Linked DNA regions of Homo sapiens. The protein of the gene in region 1 interacts with the protein of each later gene in a biochemical or structural test. Each region holds a gene or a part of one and is shown on either strand. Other genes may lie near its edges.

What was found.
Region 2: of the proteins of RNF126 (region 1) and G0S2, one has a biochemical effect on the other in vitro, tested with the Homo sapiens proteins (one study listed by BioGRID).

Annotation. Positions count from the first base shown.
Region 1 is NC_000019.10:647,026-653,442, reverse strand, and holds the end of RNF126 (E3 ubiquitin-protein ligase RNF126), read left to right. Parts: intron 1-558; coding exon 559-617; intron 618-1,146; coding exon 1,147-1,210; intron 1,211-1,587; coding exon 1,588-1,832; intron 1,833-3,146; coding exon 3,147-3,209; intron 3,210-3,694; coding exon 3,695-3,764; intron 3,765-4,390; coding exon of another isoform or gene 4,391-4,467; coding exon 4,468-4,561; intron 4,562-4,955; coding exon 4,956-5,071; intron 5,072-5,165; coding exon 5,166-5,315; 3' UTR 5,316-5,917; downstream 5,918-6,417. UniProt on the Homo sapiens protein: E3 ubiquitin-protein ligase that mediates ubiquitination oF target proteins. Depending on the associated E2 ligase, mediates 'Lys-27'-, 'Lys-29'-, 'Lys-48'- and/or 'Lys-63'-linked polyubiquitination of substrates.
Region 2 is NC_000001.11:209,664,927-209,680,425, forward strand, and holds G0S2 (G0/G1 switch protein 2), read left to right. Parts: upstream 1-10,485; 5' UTR 10,486-10,623; intron 10,624-10,726; 5' UTR 10,727-10,758; coding exon 10,759-11,070; 3' UTR 11,071-11,464; downstream 11,465-15,499. UniProt on the Homo sapiens protein: Promotes apoptosis by binding to BCL2, hence preventing the formation of protective BCL2-BAX heterodimers.

The DNA.
Region 1 (6,417 bases):
TGTCCCTGGGCAGGGTCCTCACGTCTCCTCTGGGACATCACCATGTTGGCCTTGTGTTGTCCTTGGCTCTAGGGGGACCTGGGGATGGGGTCTTGCAGGGGTGTGGCCAGCGTGGACGTGGCCTCCCCCGAGCCAGGGGAACGGGCTGTGTGCGGGGCTGCCAGAGCGTCCTGGAAATGCCACTGTGGGGTATTGGGGCACCCCTCCGAGTGGTGCCACCTGTGTGAGGAGGTGCCCAGGCACTGGTGACGCCCGTCACGGTGGGGCAGGTCGGAGGGGCTCAGCCAAGGCGCTGATGACGCTGGTGACGCCCGTCACGGTGGGGCCAGGTCGGAGGGGCTCAGATCGCCGGGAGCCACCAAAGGGTCAGCGGGTGGCTGGCAGAGGCCAGGTCCCCTCGGCCGCCCTCCAGGACCCACGGGTTGGGAGCCACCCTGGCCTGCGTGTGCCTGGCCAGCCAGAGACCGCTGGGTCCGGAGCCCCTCTGTCCTCACACTTGGGGGGGTTTGCAGGTGATGCCGGCGTCACCGTGACCCGGCCTCCTGTTCTCTCCTGCAGGATTATATCTGTCCAAGATGCGAGTCTGGTTTTATCGAGGAGCTTCCGGAAGAGACCAGGTAATGCAGCCCCCTGTTGAAGAGGCTGGAAGAGCCAGCCGGGCCTCAGCTGTTGTAGGGGTGTGGGCTGTGCTGGCGTCCGCCCCGCCGAGTGTGGGGCCGTCAGGCCCTGGTGTCTGTGGCTCCGGGAGCACTTTTCTCTGTGCAGACAGCAGCGTGCCGTTCTCTTCTGTGATGGCCGGGCCGGGGCCAGAGGGGAGTGCCGGCAACCTGTGCAGCCGCTCACCTCCCTCAGCCTCGGCGGCTAATCTGGTGACCCAGGCCCTCCGGGGAAGGGGCCACGGGGGCCCTACCCACATTCTCACGCTTAGGAGGCTGTTGGGGTCTGCACCGGTTTATCGAGAAACCCGTGGTTTACTGGCGAGGGAAGCAGCAGCGGGTTACGGCACCAAATGCTGGGGCGGTGGCGGGTGGGAAGCAGTGCCAAGGACAATTCCTGCTCTCCCAACATAGGCTTTTGAGGGGAGGGAGCGCCTGGCGCATGGGGGCACAGGGTAGCCGGCACTGCTGACCTGCACTCTCTCCCCAGGAGCACAGAAAATGGTTCTGCCCCCTCCACAGCTCCCACAGACCAGAGCCGGCCACCGTTGGAGGTGAGTCGCCCGCCCCTCGTGCTTCCCGATCGTGTCAGCCTTGCTCGGGGCCCCGAGCGCCAGCCTGTCCCCACCTCGCCTCCCCGGCTCTCCCTGCCCGCACGGCGGAGGAAATTTTTCCCTCCAGGGGCCCGGGCCAGGGATTGGGGCGGCCCACGCTGCTTGGTTGGTTTCTTGGATGAAAGCGAAACTTCCACCGAGGCATCTCACACCAGCGGGGCAGGCTCTGCCCAATTCCTGCCTCCCTGTCTGCGTCTCCCTCCCACCCGGCACCCAGCAGGGCCCGTCTTGCTTTCTCCTTTGTCTTTGTGCCCTAGCGCCCCCAGCAGACTGCACGGGCCTGAGCCCCCGAGGTCACGCCCCCCTCCTCTCCCCAGCACGTGGACCAGCACCTGTTCACGCTGCCGCAGGGCTACGGACAGTTTGCTTTCGGCATCTTCGATGACAGCTTCGAGATCCCCACGTTCCCTCCTGGGGCGCAGGCTGACGACGGCAGGGACCCTGAGAGCCGGCGGGAGAGAGACCATCCGTCCCGGCACCGGTACGGCGCCCGACAGCCCCGCGCCCGCCTCACCACGCGGCGGGCCACCGGCCGGCACGAAGGCGTCCCCACGCTGGAAGGGTGAGGGGGCCCCGGGGGTGGCCGCGAGGGCCCCACGCCTTGAGGTCGGAAGTTCTGGCGCTTAGAATCCAGCACGGGTTCCACGGAAACGTGGCATCATCCATAGGCTCTCTGGAGAGGCCGCCCGGCCAGGCCCTCCAGCCCCCTGTGACTCCCCACACGGCCCTTCGGAGACAGAAGTATGCCGGTTCAGGGTGTGTGGGTTGACCACAGAGTGGGGCACCGTGTGCCTGCCAGGCCCACGTGCTCTGGAGACTGCTGTCCACACGCGTGTCGTCAAACGCTGTCCAGGCCTTGGGCCCAGAACAGAGCCTGGGGGAGCCGTCGCAGGGCCCCACTCCTGGTGGAACGGAGCCTGGGGGAGCCGTCGCAGGGCCCCACTCCTGGTGGAACGGAGCCTGGGGGAGCCGTCGCAGGGCCCCATTCCTGGTGGAACAGAGCCTGGGGGAGCCGTCGCTGGGCCCTGCTCCTGGTGGAACAGAGCCTGGGGGAGCCGTCGCAGGGCCCTACTCCTGGCGGTTGATGCTTTTATGGTTGTGTGTCTCACCTGCTGGAAATGTCATCTTTAAAAGTGGCTAATTTTGCCAGGCACGGTGGCTCAGTGCTGTATTTGCAGTTCTCTGGGAGGTCAAAGAGGGAGGATCTCTTGAGGACAGGAGTTTAAGACCAGCCTGAGCAATGTAGGGAGGCCCCATCTCTAATTTTTAAAAAGTAGCTGAGGCTGGGTGAGGTGGCTCACACCTGTAATCCTAGCACTTTGGGAGGCCGAGGCGGGCAGATCACTGAGGTCAGGAGTTTGAGACCAGCCTGACCAATATGATGAAACTCCGTCTCTACTAAGAATACAAAAATTAGCCAGGCATGGCGGTGGGCGCCTGTAATCCCAGCTACTCAGGAGGCTGAGGCAGGAGAATCACTTGAACCCGGGAGGCAGAGGTTGCAGTCAGCCGAGGTCGTGCCATTGCACTCCAGCCTGGGCAACAAGAGTGAAACTCTGTCTCAAAAAAAAAAAAAAAAAAAAAAAAAGTAGCCGAGAGTGGTGGACCTCTTCTGTGGTCCCAGCTACTTGGGAGGCTGAGGCGGGAGGATCGCTTAAGCCCAGCAGGTTGGGGCTGCAGTGAACCAAGATCAAGCTGCTTCTCTCCTGCCTCGGCATTAGAGTGAGACCCTGGCTCATAGTAAAATAAATAAATAGAAGCTAATCTAGAAGCTGATGCTGGCCCTGCCCTTGGTGCTCACCACGGACCTGGCAGGCCTGGCGCCTCTCCTGTGCGTGGGGCGGCCTCACCCCGTGACTGGCGCTCTCTTTTCCAGGATCATCCAGCAGCTCGTCAACGGCATCATCACGCCCGCCACCATCCCCAGCCTGGGCCCCTGGTGAGTGGGTGGGGGTGCCTGTCCCCATCCCCAGCCTGGGTCCCTGGTGAGTGGGTGGGGGTGCCTGTCCCCATCCCCAGCCAGGGTCCCTGGTGAGTAGGAGGGGGTGCCTGTCCCCATCCCCAGCCTGGGCCCCTGGTGAGTAGGAGGGGGTGCCTGTCCCCATCCCCAGCCTGGGCCCCTGGTGAGTGGGTGGGGGTGCCTGTCCCCATCCCCAGCCTGGGCCCCTGGTGAGTGGGTGGGGGTGCCTGTCCCCATCCCCAGCCAGGGTCCCTGGTGAGTAGGAGGGGGTGCCTGTTCCCATCCCCAGCCTGGGCCCCTGGTGAGTGGGTGGGGGTGCCTGTCCCCATCCCCAGCCAGGGTCCCTGGTGAGTAGGAGGGGGTGCCTGTCCCCATCCCCAGCCTGGGCCCCTGGTGAGTGGGGTGGATAGACGCACCTGCCCCAGCTGCCCGTCAGCCACTTGAACCCCACCTTCCACCTCCAGGGGAGTCCTGCACTCAAACCCTATGGACTACGCCTGGGGGGCCAACGGCCTGGATGCCATCATCACACAGGTACAGCGTGGCCACGGCCCAGAGTGCCTGCTGGGGGAGGGCTGGGCTGCCCACCCCTGGGAGCTGCCCCACTGCCTGGACCCACGAAGCCCCACAAAGGTCAAAGGGGATGCGGGCACAGCCTCCACGCTCTGGCGGGCACAGGGGGCAGCTCCGGCCTTCCTCCTGCCATTTCTGAGTCTTGGCAACTTTGGGGGTTCTCCTGTGTTCACGCGGAACGTTGTAGCAAAACCGCGGGGAGGACTCGCCCACAGTCACATGGTCAGGAGGCCACGCGGTCCCTCTTCCCGAGAGGTCGCGCCCTGACCTGCTTCCAAGTGCCACCCGTCTCAGCCTTGCTGAGGAGCCCTTGGAGCATTTTGTCACTGGCAGGACCCGACCCTCACAGTAGCCCACCAGCCGGAGCACGGCCCCCCCATTCCGCCGTCAGGGCACTCAGGAGCGCGGCCCCCCCCCCCATTCCGCTGTCAGGGACCCAGGAGCGCGGGCCTCCGCCCATTCCCCCATTCCACCGTCAGGGGACCCAGGAGCGGGGGGGCCGCGTGGGCTCCACAGTGATCTCCGACCCCGGGCGGGCTCCAAGGGGCCCAGGGCCCAGGACAAACGCGGCCTCGGTGCTTTTGCAGGTCCTGCAGCCTCGCGTTTCAGAGCCCCGGGCCGGGCCCCCGAGGAGCTCCCGGCACTCTCGCCTCTTGTCTTTCAGCTCCTCAATCAGTTTGAAAACACAGGCCCCCCACCGGCAGATAAAGAGAAAATCCAGGCCCTCCCCACCGTCCCCGTCACTGAGGAGCACGTAGGTATGAGAGCTCAGCCTCCCGAGTAGTGGGAATTACAGGCACCCGCCGCCACGCCTGGCTCATACTTGTATTTTCAGTAGAGACAGGGTTTCACCATGTTGGTCAGGCAGGTCTCGAACTCCTGACCTCAGGTGATCCTCCTGCCTCGGCCTCCCAAAGTGCTGGGATGACAGGCGTGAGCCACCGCACCCGGCCTCGAGCATTTCCCTGAAGGTGGGCTGGGAGGAGAGGGTTCTGTCCAGGTCCCCTCTGGCAGCCCGGGGGACACACACACGGCTTTTCTCCCCTCGCTGGGCTCAGGGGCGGCCTCCGGCTGAGGCTGTGGAGTAGCCTGCCCTTGAAGGCTCGGCAGGCCCCCCACGCCCGCTGTGACCGCAGCTGCACACTCCCGCAGGCTCCGGGCTCGAGTGCCCTGTGTGCAAGGACGACTACGCGCTGGGTGAGCGTGTGCGGCAGCTGCCCTGCAACCACCTGTTCCACGACGGCTGCATCGTGCCCTGGCTGGAGCAGGTGAGTGCCCCGCCCACCCGCCCCCCCACCCCGACCGCGGCCCTCCCGCCTCTAACCTGCCCCTTCTCCCGTCCCTGCCTCTGTCCCCACAAAGCACGACAGCTGCCCCGTCTGCCGAAAAAGCCTCACGGGACAGAACACGGCCACGAACCCCCCTGGCCTCACTGGGGTGAGCTTCTCCTCCTCGTCGTCATCGTCCTCCTCCAGCTCGCCCAGCAACGAGAACGCCACAAGCAACTCGTGAGCCCACGTCGGCCGTCGGGAAAGCACGGGGCCTTTCCCACCCACCCTCAGCCAGCGCCACACGGCACCCACAGACTGGGTGCCCCGGCGGCGCCACGCTTGGCTGGTCAGCGCTGCAGGTCCCGCCTGTTCCAGGGCAGGACCCGGGCCCGGCCCACCGGCCCCCTGGCTTGGGAAGGCGTGGGCCACATGGTCCCCTCTGGGGCGTCCCCAGCCTCCCCGTCCTCTGTCTAACCTCACCCTCTAAACGTTCAGCGGTGGAAAGATTTTTATAATTTTAAATTATTACTGCTTTGAAATAAACGGACGTTTGAGCTCACGTGGCGGCCATGCATGGTTTGTGGCGGAAGACGGGGCCCAGCGGCTCCCCCAGCGCTGAAGCACGGGGTTCAGCGGCTCCCCCAGTGCTGCAGGTGCCGCCAGGACGGGCCACGTGGGCCCCCAGCCTCCCCCTCGGCCGCCTCCACGACCCGGAGTAGGGGGGCTCGGGACCATGAGGATGACCAGCAAAATTCAAGAACAAAACTGCTCCAACAGACTTTTTTAAAGGAAAAAATATGTGTATCTTGAAAGCTATTTAAAATACACTACTTACAAAGAGAAGCCGGTGCTGTGGCTTTCCTTCTGCGCCCGTGCGTCAGGAAAAGGCCAAGCTGGGAGGCTGGTCGGGCTCTGCAGAGTCCGGTCCTGTCTCCAGGGGTCTGCGCCTCCTGCAGGGCTTGGCACCCAGGGCCGGCTAGCAAAACTGCTCTCCCGAAGTTAAGCCCAGGAGGGCTGCTGGCGAGGTAGCAGGGTGGCAGTGTCACTGGGTCGTGAAATTTAAAACCAGAAACACCAGCGTTAAAGCGCCAGGGCCCAGCGCCTCTGCCCCACGCTTCGGTCACACCTCAGCCACGCGGGTTCCTGGCCCCTTCTGAAAAGCCGGACCCCACTGCTCAAGGTTGCTGGATGCCTGGCCCGGGGTGCAGCCAGCTCGGGCACAGCTGGCAAGGCGTGGGGACCTGCGGGCTCAGGGGGCCGGGGCAGTGGGTTCATCTCAGTTGCTGATGATCCCACCATCCTGGGATCCAAGAATCAGACGATGGAGACAGCTAACGGAGAGG
Region 2 (15,499 bases), on another chromosome or scaffold:
AATTTTCCAAATAACAAAACACTTAGCTGTTGAGTTTAAGAAACTTTACTGAAAGTTTGGAGAAGACACAGGGAAATGACTATCCAAAAGTAAGTATCAGCTCTCACCACACCCAGAATCCATGCAACATCACAGCATGTTCTTTCTGCCATATCCTGAGCTCTGAGACTTCACCAGGTTGCAGAGGCCATGGCCCTCCCTCTTTCAACAACAGTCCTCTCTTTCTATGAATTCACTTCTCCCTTCCCACCCCATGAAGAAAGTGTCTTACAAGGTAACAACCCAAATGAGTCTATCTGCCTTGGGATTATAATCTACTCTGTGCTGCTTGCCATCCATGAGCCTACATTCATTCATTCATTCATTCAGGAACTATCACTTACTTTGTATCAGGCATTGCACTAGGTGAGGAGGTTATAGCAACAAATAAGACAGACAGGACCCTCCTTCATAAAGAAGACAAACAATAAGCTAGTAAACTAAAAACTATACCTGACAATTACAAATTTTGATGCTTTCTATGAAATACGAGAAAACCAGAATGGTGTGATAGATGGGTCTCAGGAAGGGAAGAATGCCACTTTAGAAAGGACAGATAAGAGAAGTCCCCCTGAGAAGGTGACATTTGGGATGAGTCCAAAAGATTTAGGTCTGGATTCCCCAAAACAAGCTAAGCGTATATTTAAGGTACTGGTAAGGTAGAAGCACCAAAATTTCCTTTGAAAATGTTTATTTTTATACATCAAAAAAGACATGGAAGTAGACCCCTTAGGAAAATGAGAATGCTGTAGGCCCCTCCTTATACATATTTTAAAAATGTAATATTGTGTTTATTTTTATTTAGATGGGCAGTGTAGAGGACCCTTAATCTTTCCAGGGTTTAGGATCTCTAAAGTCATACTCAATCCCCAGAATATGCCAGGAAGGGGTGTTCTAGGCAGAGAAGGAACAAGCACAAAAGTTCAGTGGCAGCAAAGAGCTTGGCCTCTTCTAGGGGCAGGAAGAAGGGCTGAAAACAGCATGAGCAAGGTTAGGGGTAAAAGCTAGGGTTGGGGGAGCAGACAGGGGCTAGGTCACATAGAGGAAATGGTTCTCAACTCTAGTTATGTATGAAAAGTCCTTGGAATATTCTACCATTTTCTGATGCCTGGGCCCTACTTCAGGAGATTTAACTGACCTGGAATGGGGTTGAGGAATTGGTATTTTTTTTAAGTTTCTCAAGTGATTCTAACATGTAACCAGAGTAAGAAAACATTGACGTGGGGCCTTGGAACCAGCCAGAGGGACACAGTGTTGAATGGTGAAGAACATGGACCCTGGAACCAGATTATCTGGTTTTGAGTCCCATCCCCACCACTGACTAGCCGTTTGATTCCCAGGCACTTTGCAAAAGCTTTCTGTTCTTCAATTTCCTCACCTATAAACATAGGGATATTAGTTTACCTACCTCATAGAGCTGTTTGTAGGCCTAGTAAGTTAATACATAGAAAGGTCTCAGAAGGCACACACTGAAGATGCAGTAACTTACTAAAATAGCTGTGACTATCCTATGCTCTTCTAGAGATGGAAAGGGGTGGATGGAGTCAAGGTGTCAATTTGATACAACTAACAGGACTTGCTGAAAAACTGGAAGAGGGAGATGAGAGGGGGAAAAAGGAATAAAAGATAGCTTCCATGTTTGGGGTTTTAGCAATTGGGTGGAAAGTGATGCTGTGTCCCAAGATGGGGAAGACTAGGAGGTAAACAAGTTTTGAAGAAAAAAAATCAAGAATTTCATCTGGCATGCATTAACTTAAAGACACCCTATTAGATATCCAAGAAGAGATGCAAATCAGACAATATGTAAGCCTGGAGCTCAGGAGAGAAACAAATTTCAGATTCATTAGCGTATAGAGCTGTCCTGTCCAATAGAGTAGCCACCAACCACACATAGGGGGCTATTTAATTTAAATTTAGATTAATTAAACAAAATTAAACATTCAGGCCACCAGTTTTCACCACATTTCAACTGCTTAAGAGCCTCATGTAGCTAGTGGCTACCATATTGGACAGCATAGATATGCAACGTTTCCATTGCTGCAGAAAGTTCTGTAGAGCACTGAAGGAGTCTCAAACCATGGAACTGGAGGAAGTCATCTAGGAAGTAGTCCATGATTCTGGCTACACACTAAAATCACCTCCAGGAATTCAGAGTTGATTTGTCTTGGGGAAGTCTCAGGCATTGGTAGTTTTTAATAACCCAGGACGATTGTAAAGTGGAGCCAGGGCTGAGAACAACTGACCCAGGGAAATAATGCTGGAGAAGAAAGGAATCATGGGAGGGCCTGGATTGCTGCAACAGTAGGGGCAGTGACCTCAGAACTAATCTTTCTCTAGAGCTCCTGATTCATGATTCACATACAACTATCTGATGAACATCTTTGCCTGCATGTCCCATAAACAGCCCAAACTCAATAAATCCAAGATGGAACTCATTTTTCTCACCAGAGGTGTTCTTCCTCTTCTCATTCCCACACTTGGGAGTCACCCCAGTGACTCCCAAGCCCCAAGTGACTCCTCTTCCACAGCACAAGTCTGCCAGGTTTTCTGATTTATCACTCAGTCTGTCTCTTTCTCTCCCCATTACCTCTGTTTTGGCCCAGTTCTTCATGGTCTCCTGCCTGAATTACTGTAACGACATCTCACTAGCTGCCTCTAGTTTTGCCCCTCCCTTAACCATCCTGCACTCTGCCACAGTGATCTACTTAAAATGCCAATCTTGTAGTGTTTTGCTGTGTAAAATGTATCAGTGTCTCTCATTGCCTATAGGATATAGTTCAGTCGAAGATAGATTGGTCGCTATGTATCAAACACCTCAAAGGAACTATGCACTGCCCTAGTTCTGAGAACACTGCACTGAGCAAGACAGAGAGCGCTCCTGAGTAGAACTGCAGCCCTGAAATGGGGACAGACAACAGAGTTATGAAAAGGAAAGTGAGGTGGCCATGGGAGCATGCAGCAAAGGGAACTGGCCTTATCTAGGTGACAAGAAAGGTCTTCCCTGAGGAAATGAGAGAACAGTGACACTTGGAGGATGAGTAAGAGTTCACCAGACCACAGGGGATGAAGAAAGTGCTCTCTCCACATGGAAAGAACTACATGGGGAAGAACCTGCGTCTGCAAAGGAACAGAACAGTGTGACTGGCACCCAGAGAGTGAGGGTTGAGGGATATGGGATGAAGCTGGAAAAGCAGACAAGGACAGGATGGTGGGTGGCTTATATGCCATGCAAAGAATCTGGGGCATTCCAAAGGGCAAAGTGGGGATCCACTGAATGATTTTATTTTTTTTTTATTCCACGAACTTTTTGCTAACCACTGAAGGATTTGAAAGAGAAGAGTGACATGGCCAAGTCTGCACTTTTTAAAAAGACTACACTGGCTTGAAGTGGAGTAGAGTGGCCAAAACCTGAGGCAGAGAGACCAGCTGTGAGGCCATACTAAATGGTCTGGGGGAGGCAATGAGATCTTAGACTAGAAGGGTGGCAGAGGAGATAGAAAGCAGATTGAATTAACAGATGTTTAAGAGGTAGAATGATAAGTCTTGGTGATTTTTTTTTTTTTTTTTTTTGAGACGGATTCTCGCTCTGTCGCCCCAGGCTGGAGTGCAGTGGTGCAATCTAGGCTCACTGCAAGCTCCGCCTCCCGGGTTCACGCCATTCTCCTGCCTCAGCCTCTCGAGTGGCTGGGACTACAGGCACCCGCCACCAAACCCAGCTAATTTTTTGTATTTTTAGTAGAGATGGGGTTTCACTGTGTTAGCCAGGATGGTCTTGATCTCCTGACCTCGTGATCCACCCGCCTCAGCCTCCCAAAGTGCTGGGATTACAGACGTGAGCCACAAGTCTTGGTGATTTTTCACATTGGAGAGGTGATGGAGAGCAAGGAGGAAAAGATGGCTCCTTGACTTCAAACCTGAGCTGCTAGGTGAATGGTGCAGCTTAGGTTAAGAAAGATGGTTACAAGTTTATGGGGTAGAAATATTGAATTTGGCTTTAGACACAGTAATTCTGATACCTGCAAGACATCCAAGTCAAAATGTAGAATAGGTAGAGGGATACACAGGTCTAGAGCTCAGACTTGTAGGTCATCTGTGTAGAAGCAGCAATGGAAGCCCTGGCAGTAAATTAAATCACTGAAGAGAGCATGTGGAATAAGAAAAGGGGCTCCAGGACTGAGTCCTGAGAAATGCTGACATTTGTAGGTTAGATAAAGAGGACAATTGAGATAAAGATCCTGAGTTTTGTCCAGAATAGGGTAAGAGGAAAACCAGCAGAATATGGTATCGTGGAAGCAAAGGAGAAATGTGTTTCTAGAAGGGAGTGGTCAGCAATTCCTAGGCATGGGATGAATAAGTGATTATTGATACAACTGCTTATTATCTGGCTCCTACTTACTGCTTCCTGCTCATTTTCTGCCATTTCCCAAAATCCATCCTTTATGATTTAACACCAACTTGTCTAACTTCTCTTGGACCATGTGATGCTTTATCTTTCATCCTCCCTTTTCACATGCAGTCCCATCTCATTCAAGGCCTCCCCATGCCCTGAACAACACCCTGTCCCAGAACCACCTGGTGAACACCATCCATCCTTTAACATCCCAAGCCTCTCAGGAATCATTTACCCTTAGGCCTTCTTTGACTACCTCCTCCCCAAAGGGCATCAATACCTGTCTCATTCTGTGCTTTTTGTTCATCTGGTATAAATTTCTATTACGGTGCCTTTCCCAATATACAATAATAACTCGTTTACAGTCTGTGTCCTCTACTTCACTATAAGCTTCTTGAGGGCAAATGCAGTTTGTATTCTGCATTTTTTTTTTTTTTTTGAAACAGAGTCTTGCTCTGTCACCAGGCTGGAGTACAGAGGCATGATCTCGGCTCACTGCAACCTCCACCTCCTGGGTTCAAGTGATTCTCCTGCTTCAGCCTCCCATGTAACTGGGATTACAGGCATGTGCCACCACACCCGGCTAATTTTTGTATTTTTAGTAGAGACAGGGTTTCATCATGTTGCCCAGGATGGTCTTGATCTCCCAGCCTCCTGATCCGCCCGTCTTGTCCTCCCAAAGTGCTGGGATTACAGGTGTGAGCCATCACACATTCTGCTTCCTATAACTATGCTTAACACAGTGTCAGGTACATGGCTGGCTTCAACAAATATTTTTGGACCTTACTAGAAGCTACCTAAATGTCACCTAAGGAATGCAAATGTCCCGGGCTGGGATAAAGCATCATGGAAATTGCCGACGTAGAGCAAGAGGCAAAGACAATTGAATAATAACAGCCATCATTTAATGATTGCTTCATTTGTGCCAGAAACTGCCTAAGTCCCTTACAGAGCTCTATCTCATTCACTCTTCATCATATCTGTTTCATAGGGGCTTATCATCATCACCACACCCCATTTAATAGGGGCTATCATAACTCTCACTTCACAGATACGGAAGTAGAAGTTATAGAAGTTAAGTCACTTGCCCAAGGTCAGGCCTTAGCAAATGGAGGAGTCAGGATTTGGAGGAACCCAGGTTTGCTTGACTTTAGAGCCCTATACCCTTAAGACCAATTGGCATTTGAGCTTGGGGAAAATTCCTTGTGCTGACTCAAACTTGTAAAGTATATTGTTTAATCTGGAAGTGGTATGTAGGCAGCAGGGTGCAGGTAATTCTAACCACACCACCCATGGCTATTCAAGGCTTCCAGCACAGTCTGCATGCCCCAGCAGCTGGTGGCTCTGCTTGACCAAAAGTTATGAAGGACAAAAGCAGAATGCCTATAAAGTCTGTTCCTTTGCCTTGATTTGTACCACGGGCAGGCTGGAGGGTGCCCAGAGTGAGCCAATGGCTACAATGTCAGACACTAAGTTGGGAGTGGAAGTGAAAGGTGAGGAGACCAGAGTGGAGGAAACTAAGCCAAGTTGCCAGGTCTTGGGCAATTTCAACACCAAGGCTCTGAGCCAAGGACAGGCTACTGTGCTTGAAATAACTTCCCAAGAGAGCCTTAACTGGTCACTTTGCCCTCTCTATCTCAGCACTGACTTTTAGGTCAATGTAACTAATATTGATTAGCCTCCTATTCTATGTTAACACCATGAAAGATACAAAGCTTTTGTCTTCCACAGAGCTGAGGCAAGCCCACAGGAAACAATGACAGAGTTGTACAAAACGGTAATCCATCCAGTGCCAGCCTGTAGAGTACAAGCCCCAAAGGCAACTGAAATTCACAGAAAGGAGAGATCAAGGTGTGCTGCCATGGGCAGTGGTAGCTTCTTGGAGCACAGGAAATTGAACTTGACCTCAAGGAAGAAAGGAAGACAAAGTAGAAAGAGGACAGCATTTCAGGTAGAAACAACTGTGTGAGCAAAAATAAATGAAGCAGCAGCAATGCGAATGAATTGTTTCTTGGCCTGTGAAGAAACCTCTCTGTGGAGCAAAGGGCTATTGTGGGAGAAGAACAGGAGAAGATCGGACCATAGAGAGCCTGAATTCCAAGAATACTAAATCAAGCAAATTCAACATGCAGGATCCAGGAGTCCATTATGTGGGCAATGAGAAATGATCTTGGCCTTTAAACAGGCAGTTGACAATAAAAAATTAAATTTTAGGAAGATTCATTTGGTGGTAGTGTTTAAGATGGATTAGAGGAGAAAGGATTAAAAGCAAAAAAACTGTCCCCTCAAAAACCTGAATGCTTCTTTAAGCATCTACTAAAAGTTGGACTGCATTCAAAAACAAACAAACAAACAAACAAAAAACAGTCCCTTCCCTGCCAGGCTTCACAGTCCATGGAAAAGCCATTCATTAATCCCATAGTTACCCATTAAGGACCTATTATGTGCTAAGAATTATACTGGGCACTGGGGACACAGTGAGGAGCAAACCAAAGTCCCTATCCTCATGAAGCCTATCCTCCAACGCACATGGAAGACAATATAAAACCACACCATTAAGTACATCCACATAGAATCAGGTAACCAAGTGCTATGAAGAAAAAGAAAGTAGGGCACTGGGTGGAGAGTGGTGGGATGCAGTAGTCAGGGAAGGCCTCTCCAAATAACTTCCATGATATTTCAAGCCCAGAGAACAAATGAAACGGAGATGTCACTGCTAGAAATAAGGATATTGAGAAGAAGACTTAGCTTGTAAGAGTATAGAGAAGGTAAGGAGTCTTGTTTTAAGTGTGTCAAGCTGTGATAATAGCAGTGTATCCACACAGAAATATTTAGACTCTAGAACTCTAGTCTATAAGACCAGAGGAGACAGTGGCTACACATATAAATTTCAGTGTCTTCCACTGATATCCGAGTGATAAGCAACTTCCTTTCTAAAACTATGAAAGTAACTAAGGGTCTAAAAAAAATTTCTAGTGCGGTAGTCTTAAAACTACAAATAGTTTTGTCATATCTCCTATGATGACTCCCTCCCTTCAGCTGCCTGGAGCCCCAGGGGTGGGCAGTGACTTTGTGTAGGCAGCAAGCAGCCGGTAACAAAATAATAATTATTATTGTTATTATTATATTATAATAATTGTAACAATAACAATTATTATTGAAGCTCATTTACAACTAACCATCCAAAAGACCTCTTTCCCCTGTGTCTTCAATCCCCAAGGCAGAGGGGTAGGGACAGTTCTATCCCTCCTCTGCACTTAACCCTTGAAACACATGCACCCCTTTGTGACTTTACCCTCTGCAGATGGCTCTGAATGTCTTAATGTCTGAGAGAAAGGGATTTAGAAAGCAAAATATAAAAATTTTAAACTAGTCCTTCCTACCTTCCTAGAAGTGGCAAGAGTTAAATGTTGAGATAGACTCAAGGGTAGGATGACTATTTCAGTTTGCCTGGAAGTGTTTCAGTTTGCCTGGAAGTATCTCAGTTTTAGTGCTCAGTTTTAGCAGGAGTCCTGCATTTCAGAGAACCCCTCAACCCTGAGCAAAATAAGATGGTTGGTCACCCTATGGCTTGGTTTGACCATCATCGCTATAACCTGTATCTTACCTGCATGCATGACACAACACAGTGCTTTACTTCCCTAAAAATGACATCAGCCCCACTAAAATATATGTTTAGTTTCCAAGCCCTACCTAGTCACCTTCTACCCTAGGAGCCAGGTTCTCTTTTCCCACCCAGACAGAGGAGCTGCACTCAGAAATTCCTAGACATGAGTTAACACTGGATTCCTTAGCCTTCTACTCCCATCATCTCCTGCTCAGCCCCAGCTACCACCTAAACTAGGAAGATCAAGTCTACCAGTGACCTCCGTCCATGGCACTTGCTGCCCCTCCTCTGTCCAGCTCTTACCAATATAGCTGCTGGAACCTGGAGGTCAAAGTCAAATTATCAAAAAAAGGAACTGAGCTGGTGATGTGCACTAACACAGCAAATCACAGGAAAGGGGAACCCCAGGTAAATTACAGCCTTCTGACCTAGGAAGACGTGTGGTTTGCGTCTCTGAGTTACAGAAACACAGGAAATGCTTACTGGACCAGTCAATTTCAGAATTTTGGGTCCCAAGCTAGGCTGACTCACCTTCAGAATGGAAACCACGTGACAGCCCTTATATCAGGGCACACATCACATGCTCTTCCAGAAGTCAATGGGTTTGGAACCCTCACAGATATTGGGAAAGCTCACTAATCATTTCTGCCAGTTATCAGAGGTTGCTCTGAAACTATAAGGAAGATTCAAAGAAAATGCCAAGACTGATATTAAACTTGGCAGGAACCCTTGTTACAGAATTTTCCTGCCTGACAAGGTTAAAAGAACAATAAGCAGGAAACACAGTCCTCCAGGAATAATCAATTCTATTTGGCCCCTGGTCACCTTCACTCAGACTAAATTCTAAAACATAGAATTTCAAATAAGCTATTTAGATAACCTTGACCATTCTCCACACACAAGCCCTTGCCTGAACTATTAATAGTCAAGGCAAAGGGTAGTTGTTATTGCTGCCTTTTTAAACTGAATCATCTGAGAAATTGCTTCAGACCCCCAAAGAAAGATTACTGTTAACAATTCAAAAACTAAAATATTTGATCCCTGAGACAGCCTTTTCCCCCGACCCGCCCTTCAGGGCTCAGTCCGACCGACTGCAAAGGCTGTTGCAAGATTGCATCACTGACCTTTGCAATTTTCTGGCCAGTTTGATTTCCCCTTCTTTCCCCTGCCCCCTCCCTTTCTCTGCTTAAAGGCCTTTGGCCAATTTGCCTCTCCTTTTCCCCAAGTTTGCTAACCCTTTGGCCAATTTGCCTCTCTTTTTCCCCAAGTTTGCTAACTCTAGCATATCCATAACCAAAGCCAAACTAGAACGCTCCCTCAGCCCCAGGTGATTACAGCTAACCCTGGTCAAAATCAATCCTACATCTTCACACGTCCAAGAGTACTCACACTCTGGATTCTTACCTAAGCTGTCTACTACACGCCCTTCTGCCCACAAACTGCTTCAAAGCTGAAGTTGAGCTGGAGCAGTGAAGTTGTACCCCCAAACCCAGGAGGGTGGCAGAGAATTATTGAGGAGAGCATGAAATACTTCCATTCTAAAATGGCAGATGAACTTCTACCAACAGCCCCTTCCATACTTGACCCCCTACCCCCAAGCTCCCAACTCCACTTCTCAAGTGGAAGTGAGAACAATTTGAATTTGAAGGCTCTTCCCTGATACACGGAAGTACATAAGGAAACAGCTCGCAGGCAAAGAGACTAATCTCTCTCTCTTTCTCTCTCTCTCTCTCTCTCTCTCTCTCTCTCACACACACACACACACACACACACACACCTCTGTGCATAAAAGCACCATCAATGAATAGTTTTCTATCAACTGACTCTAGTTATACATGCATGTACCTCTAAATAAAACCAACCAGGCAGGAAAGAAACAATATTAGCACATATTGCTTTATCCAAGCGTAACCTGTTCTGTCCTGTTACCCAGATCCTTCCCCCTTGCCTTCTCCTCTCTGATCCATTGCCACACACGTGGGAAGGTGACAACCCTTCCGAATAAAAATGAAAGCTTTCTTCTTTAGATGGAACCCCCAAATTCCCTCATTATTTATAATGTCAGGCTGTCCTGGACAAGGGAAGCTGTGCACCCGCTGACACCAGTAAGAAGGTTGCCGCCATGTCAGAGATGTCCGCGGACACCTCCCTGGGCTCCGGGTCCTCCCCTGCGCTCGCCTGGAGTGGGACCTTCGCGTGCACACTGGCCTTCCCACGCGCCCCGCTGCGATGGCACCCGCGCCGGGCCCCCTAGCTCACACAGTCGGAGCGTGCTCAGCGCGTGGCCACCTCCTGCCAGGTCCCAGCCGGGTTCCACCCCCTCCTTTTCCCCTCCTCTTCTTCCTCCCCCTCCGAGTTCCCCTGGCTCTGACCGCGCTGGCCTGGGCCGGAGAGCCCAGGAGGCGTGTCTCAGAGAAAAGATATAAGCGGCCCCCGGACGCTAAAGCGGTGCCAGCGGCGGAGTCTCCAACTGGGAGAGCTGCAGCTGCCGAGAGGAGGAGAACGCTGAGGTCGGTCGGACCAACGGACGCGCTGACCGCTGCCAACTGCAGCTCGCGCTGCCTCCTGCTCGCGCCGTGCCACTAAGGTAGTCCGCCTTTCTATGAGCCCTCCCCAAGATTAGCTGGGTGCGGGGTGGTGGGAGCCGTTCTTTGGTGGCTGAAGCCCCTCTCCTGCTGCTCCTCCTGCAGGTCATTCCCGCCTCCGAGAGCCCAGAGCCGAGATGGAAACGGTCCAGGAGCTGATCCCCCTGGCCAAGGAGATGATGGCCCAGAAGCGCAAGGGGAAGATGGTGAAGCTGTACGTGCTGGGCAGCGTGCTGGCCCTCTTCGGCGTGGTGCTCGGCCTGATGGAGACTGTGTGCAGCCCCTTCACGGCCGCCAGACGTCTGCGGGACCAGGAGGCAGCCGTGGCGGAGCTGCAGGCCGCCCTGGAGCGACAGGCTCTCCAGAAGCAAGCCCTGCAGGAGAAAGGCAAGCAGCAGGACACGGTCCTCGGCGGCCGGGCCCTGTCCAACCGGCAGCACGCCTCCTAGGAACTGTGGGAGACCAGCGGAGTGGGAGGGAGACGCAGTAGACAGAGACAGACCGAGAGAGGAATGGAGAGACAGAGGGGGCGCGCGCACAGGAGCCTGACTCCGCTGGGAGAGTGCAGGAGCACGTGCTGTTTTTTATTTGGACTTAACTTCAGAGAAACCGCTGACATCTAGAACTGACCTACCACAAGCATCCACCAAAGGAGTTTGGGATTGAGTTTTGCTGCTGTGCAGCACTGCATTGTCATGACATTTCCAACACTGTGTGAATTATCTAAATGCGTCTACCATTTTGCACTAGGGAGGAAGGATAAATGCTTTTTATGTTATTATTATTAATTATTACAATGACCACCATTTTGCATTTTGAAATAAAAAAACTTTTTATACCATATCTCATGTAATTCCTGAGAGGTGTGGTGTCCTGGGGTGGGAAGCAGGGAGGGTGAGCAGGTGGGCGATGGTGATGGGTTCTTACCTGAGCACTGCAGAGGGAGCAGCTTCCTGAGGGTCAGACACTTGCTTCACACCTAGGAACTGTGTAATAAGTTACTACATGCATATAAGTCTGTTGAGGACTTGTTTTTCCTTCTTGTTAGGGGTGGGAAGAGAGAAAATTTTATAACTTCCGTGAGATTTAGCATTTTAACATCAAAAGGTAGATCAACTTCTGAGCTACAGTGAGTAGGAGATAACTGATTAATTCTAAGGCAGAAAAGCTCTTTGTTCCTTACACCTGTGCACCAGAGGTTCCCATGGCTGATACCTTTTTCTTCCCAACTATATTTTAGACAGACAGACAGAGAGAAGGAAAGAAAATGAAGGAGGGAGGTCTGGAGGTGAAGGGAAGGAAAGAAAGGAAAAACTATCTACCTGGCAGGAAAAGAGATAAGCTCCCAAGAACACCAAAGCAGATGATGAGTCTAGCTCTACCCAGCCTTCCTCCCCACGAATCCAGATCATAGTAAGAAACTCTGGGCTAGAAAGAGAAAAAAACCGGTTGTTACATATCTGAGTCCTCCTCCTCCAGTGTACAGAGCTTCATCTGTAGTAATAGCTAATTCAGTGACTCTATAGGGCTCAGCAAAACAAATTTTAAACTTTAAAGAAGTAGCCAGGAGCCAGAGGCATGGCCTTGATGCTAGTCTCCTCACATTTTTCATGTCACCTGTCCTAATCAGGTACTGACACTTTACTCCTTTCATCAACAGCTATGCATTTTTGCCAAACATATCACTGGCTCACACCATTGCCTCTGCTCAGACTCTCTCCTTCGTCCAATGCCCTACACACATCTCCATTTCATTTCTGCCAACTCAATTCCTACCAAGTGTTCCTGGCCCTGATCAAAAGCCATCTCTTTCTGAAATCTATTCTTATCACTCCCAAAGGAAAAAAGCAATCAGAATGTGGTAAGATTAATCAAGGAAAAGAAACATATTTGGAGTTTTAAAGGAAAAGAATGTCAGTGGCACCATGGCTCTCCCAGTTTCCAAAATGGGAAATTCAGCCCTATACCAAGGCAGAGCCTCACTTTCAATGTCCAAGAAACTTCCTAGGAACTGACTCAATTTTATCCTTCCTGCTGGTCTTCCAAAATGCCTCTTTTATTAATTACTCCTTTACCCATTCAGTTACCACCTTGTCTGGCTCTCAACCGCTCAAGCCACCCCCTGCACCTTCTAGCACATTCACCCTAAACAATCCCTTGTCAGACTGTCTTCCTTTAATATCTTTCATTCTGCTGCTCCTGAACTCAAAAACATCTGAGACTAAAACTCTTATGCCAGGTTTCAGTGCCTCTGTGATGTGCTTCCATCACAGCTGGCCGTCTTGCCTGATTTGTCAGGGTGCCTAGCATGAACCCTGGTCCTTGCCTGTTTCCTTCTGGTTTTCTGCACCTTCATTTACATTACTCTTCCAACCCGAATTTCCAACCCGAATGTCCTCCCACCCACTACCTCCACATCTTCTGAAACCACATACCTCAAATTCTCCAAGGAAGGTATGATTTCAAATACAGGTATTTTGCCCATTGTCAAAATACATGTAAAATTGTGTGCTCTGATTTTTGAGATGGAGTCTTGCTCTGTCACCAGGCTGGAGTGCAGTGGCACAATCTTGGCTCACTGCAACCTCTGCCTCCTGGGTTCAAGCGATTCCACTGCCTCAGCCTCCCGAGTAGCTGGGACTACAGGCGTGTACCACCATGCCCAGCTAATTTTTTGTATTTTGGTAGAGATGGGGTTTCACCATGTTGGCCAGGATGGTCTCAATCTCCTGACCTCATGATCCGCCTGCCTCAGCCTCCCAAAGTACTGGGATTACATGATTTTTTATTTAGAGGGTAACGCCTATGTTTTGAAAGGTTGCCTATACATAAAAAAATAAAGTTCCCTAAATATATAAGTATGCCTATATGTTTTTGTGTAGAAGGAAATTCCCCATGCCTATTTATATTCAAATTACCCAACCCAATCAAATCCGAGCTATTGAAATCTCTGTTCTCACTGGTCTTCTCAATTCTCTGAGTTCTTATAGGCCGTACAGCCTGAATCTCATACCACATCACTCAGTAATGGGCTTTTTTTCTTCCAGTTGTTCTGTGGGCTTGGTCATGTCTCTTACAGTATAATCTTCTTGAAGTAAAGGACCATGTCTTCTTCAGTGTTCACAGAAATCATTAGGTCCTAGGCAAATAGTAGGTTCTTAATAAATACTTGATTGTTTAATCATTTATGAGGCTAGAGCAGTGATTGTAAATGAAAGGAGAAGCAATTTTGTCCCTCCAGAGAACATTTGACAGTCTAAAGACATTTCTGGTGTCTGGGTGAGGGGAGGGGGCAGGACTGCAAGCATCTAGAGGGTAGAAGTCAGTGGGCTGTTAAACATGTTCTAATGCACAGGACAGCCCCCAACACAAAGAATTCTCCATTCCAAAATGTCAATAGGGCAGAAGTTGAAAAATTCTGGGTTAGAGGAAAGTAAGGAAAAAGGATTTGCTTAATAATTTCAGAATCGAAGTTATGAGGTGGTCTCACAAGGCTCTGTCTGGTTACAATCAAACATGTTCCTCCCCCAACACAGGAACAAAAATTGTCTTTTTTCCTATGCTGCTTGGTAATTTTACCAACAACCTAGGAGAGGTAGCAGAAGGTATACTTATCAGTTCTGTTGGTGACACAGAGCTGAGACAGCACAGTCAGAACTCAAAACAACTCAATAGGCTGGAACCACGCATCGAAGAAAAACCAACTGAAACCGAATAGGGAAAAAGATACAGTACAGAATTCAGATCCAAAAAACCAATTGCACAACCACAGAATTTGAAAGACATATTCTAGCAGCAGATCATGTGAAAAAGATCTAGAGTTTTTTGAAATTTTTAATTGACTCATTATAATTGTACATATTTATGGAGTACAATTTGATGTTTCCATACATGAACACATTGTATAATGATCAAATCAAGGTATTTAGCATAGCCATTGCCTCATGCATTTATCATTTCCTTGTGGTGAGAACATTCAAAAGCTTCTCTTCTAGCTATTTTGTAATATACAATACCTTACTGTTAACCATGGTCACCCTACTGTGCAAAAGAACTCCAGAACTCTTCCTCCTAATTGAAACTTTGTACCCCTTGACCAGCCTCTCCTCATCCTCCCCTCCCCTATCTCCCCCCAAGTCTCTGTTAACCACACTGATCTACTCTATACTTCTATAAGATCAGTAAATATACACATATATATATATATTCCACATTTAAGTGAGATCATGTGCTATTGGCTATTCGTCTTTCTGTGTCTGGCTTATTTCACTTAACATAACATCCAGGTTCATCCATTTTGTCTCAGATGACAGGATATCATTGTTTTCCATCGTTGAATAGTATTCCATTGTATACATATACCACATGTTCTTTATCCTTTCATCCACTGCTGGCAACTTAGGTTGATTTCAAGTCTTGGCTATTGTAAACAGTGCTGCAACAAATATGGGAGTACAGATATCTCTATATACCCACCAGTGGGAATGCTGGATCTTATGGTGGTTTTACTTTTAATCTTTTAGGAACCTCCATGCTGTTTTCCATTCCATTAGGAGCTGTGCTAATTTACATTCCCACCAACAGGGTATAAGCATTCCCTTTTCTCTACATCCTCACCAACACTTGCTTTCTTTTGTCTTTTGGTAAGAGCTATTCTAACTATAGTGAAGTAGTATTTAATTGTGGTTTTGACTTGTATTTCCCTGGTGATCAGTGATGTTGAACATTTTTTTTTCATATGCCTGTTGGCCATTTTTATGTCTTCTTTTGAGAAATATTAAGGTATTTTGCCCATTTTTAAAATTAGGTTACTTGGGTTTCTTTTGCTGTTGGGTTGTTTGAGTTTCTTATACATTCTGGATATTAACCCTTCATCAG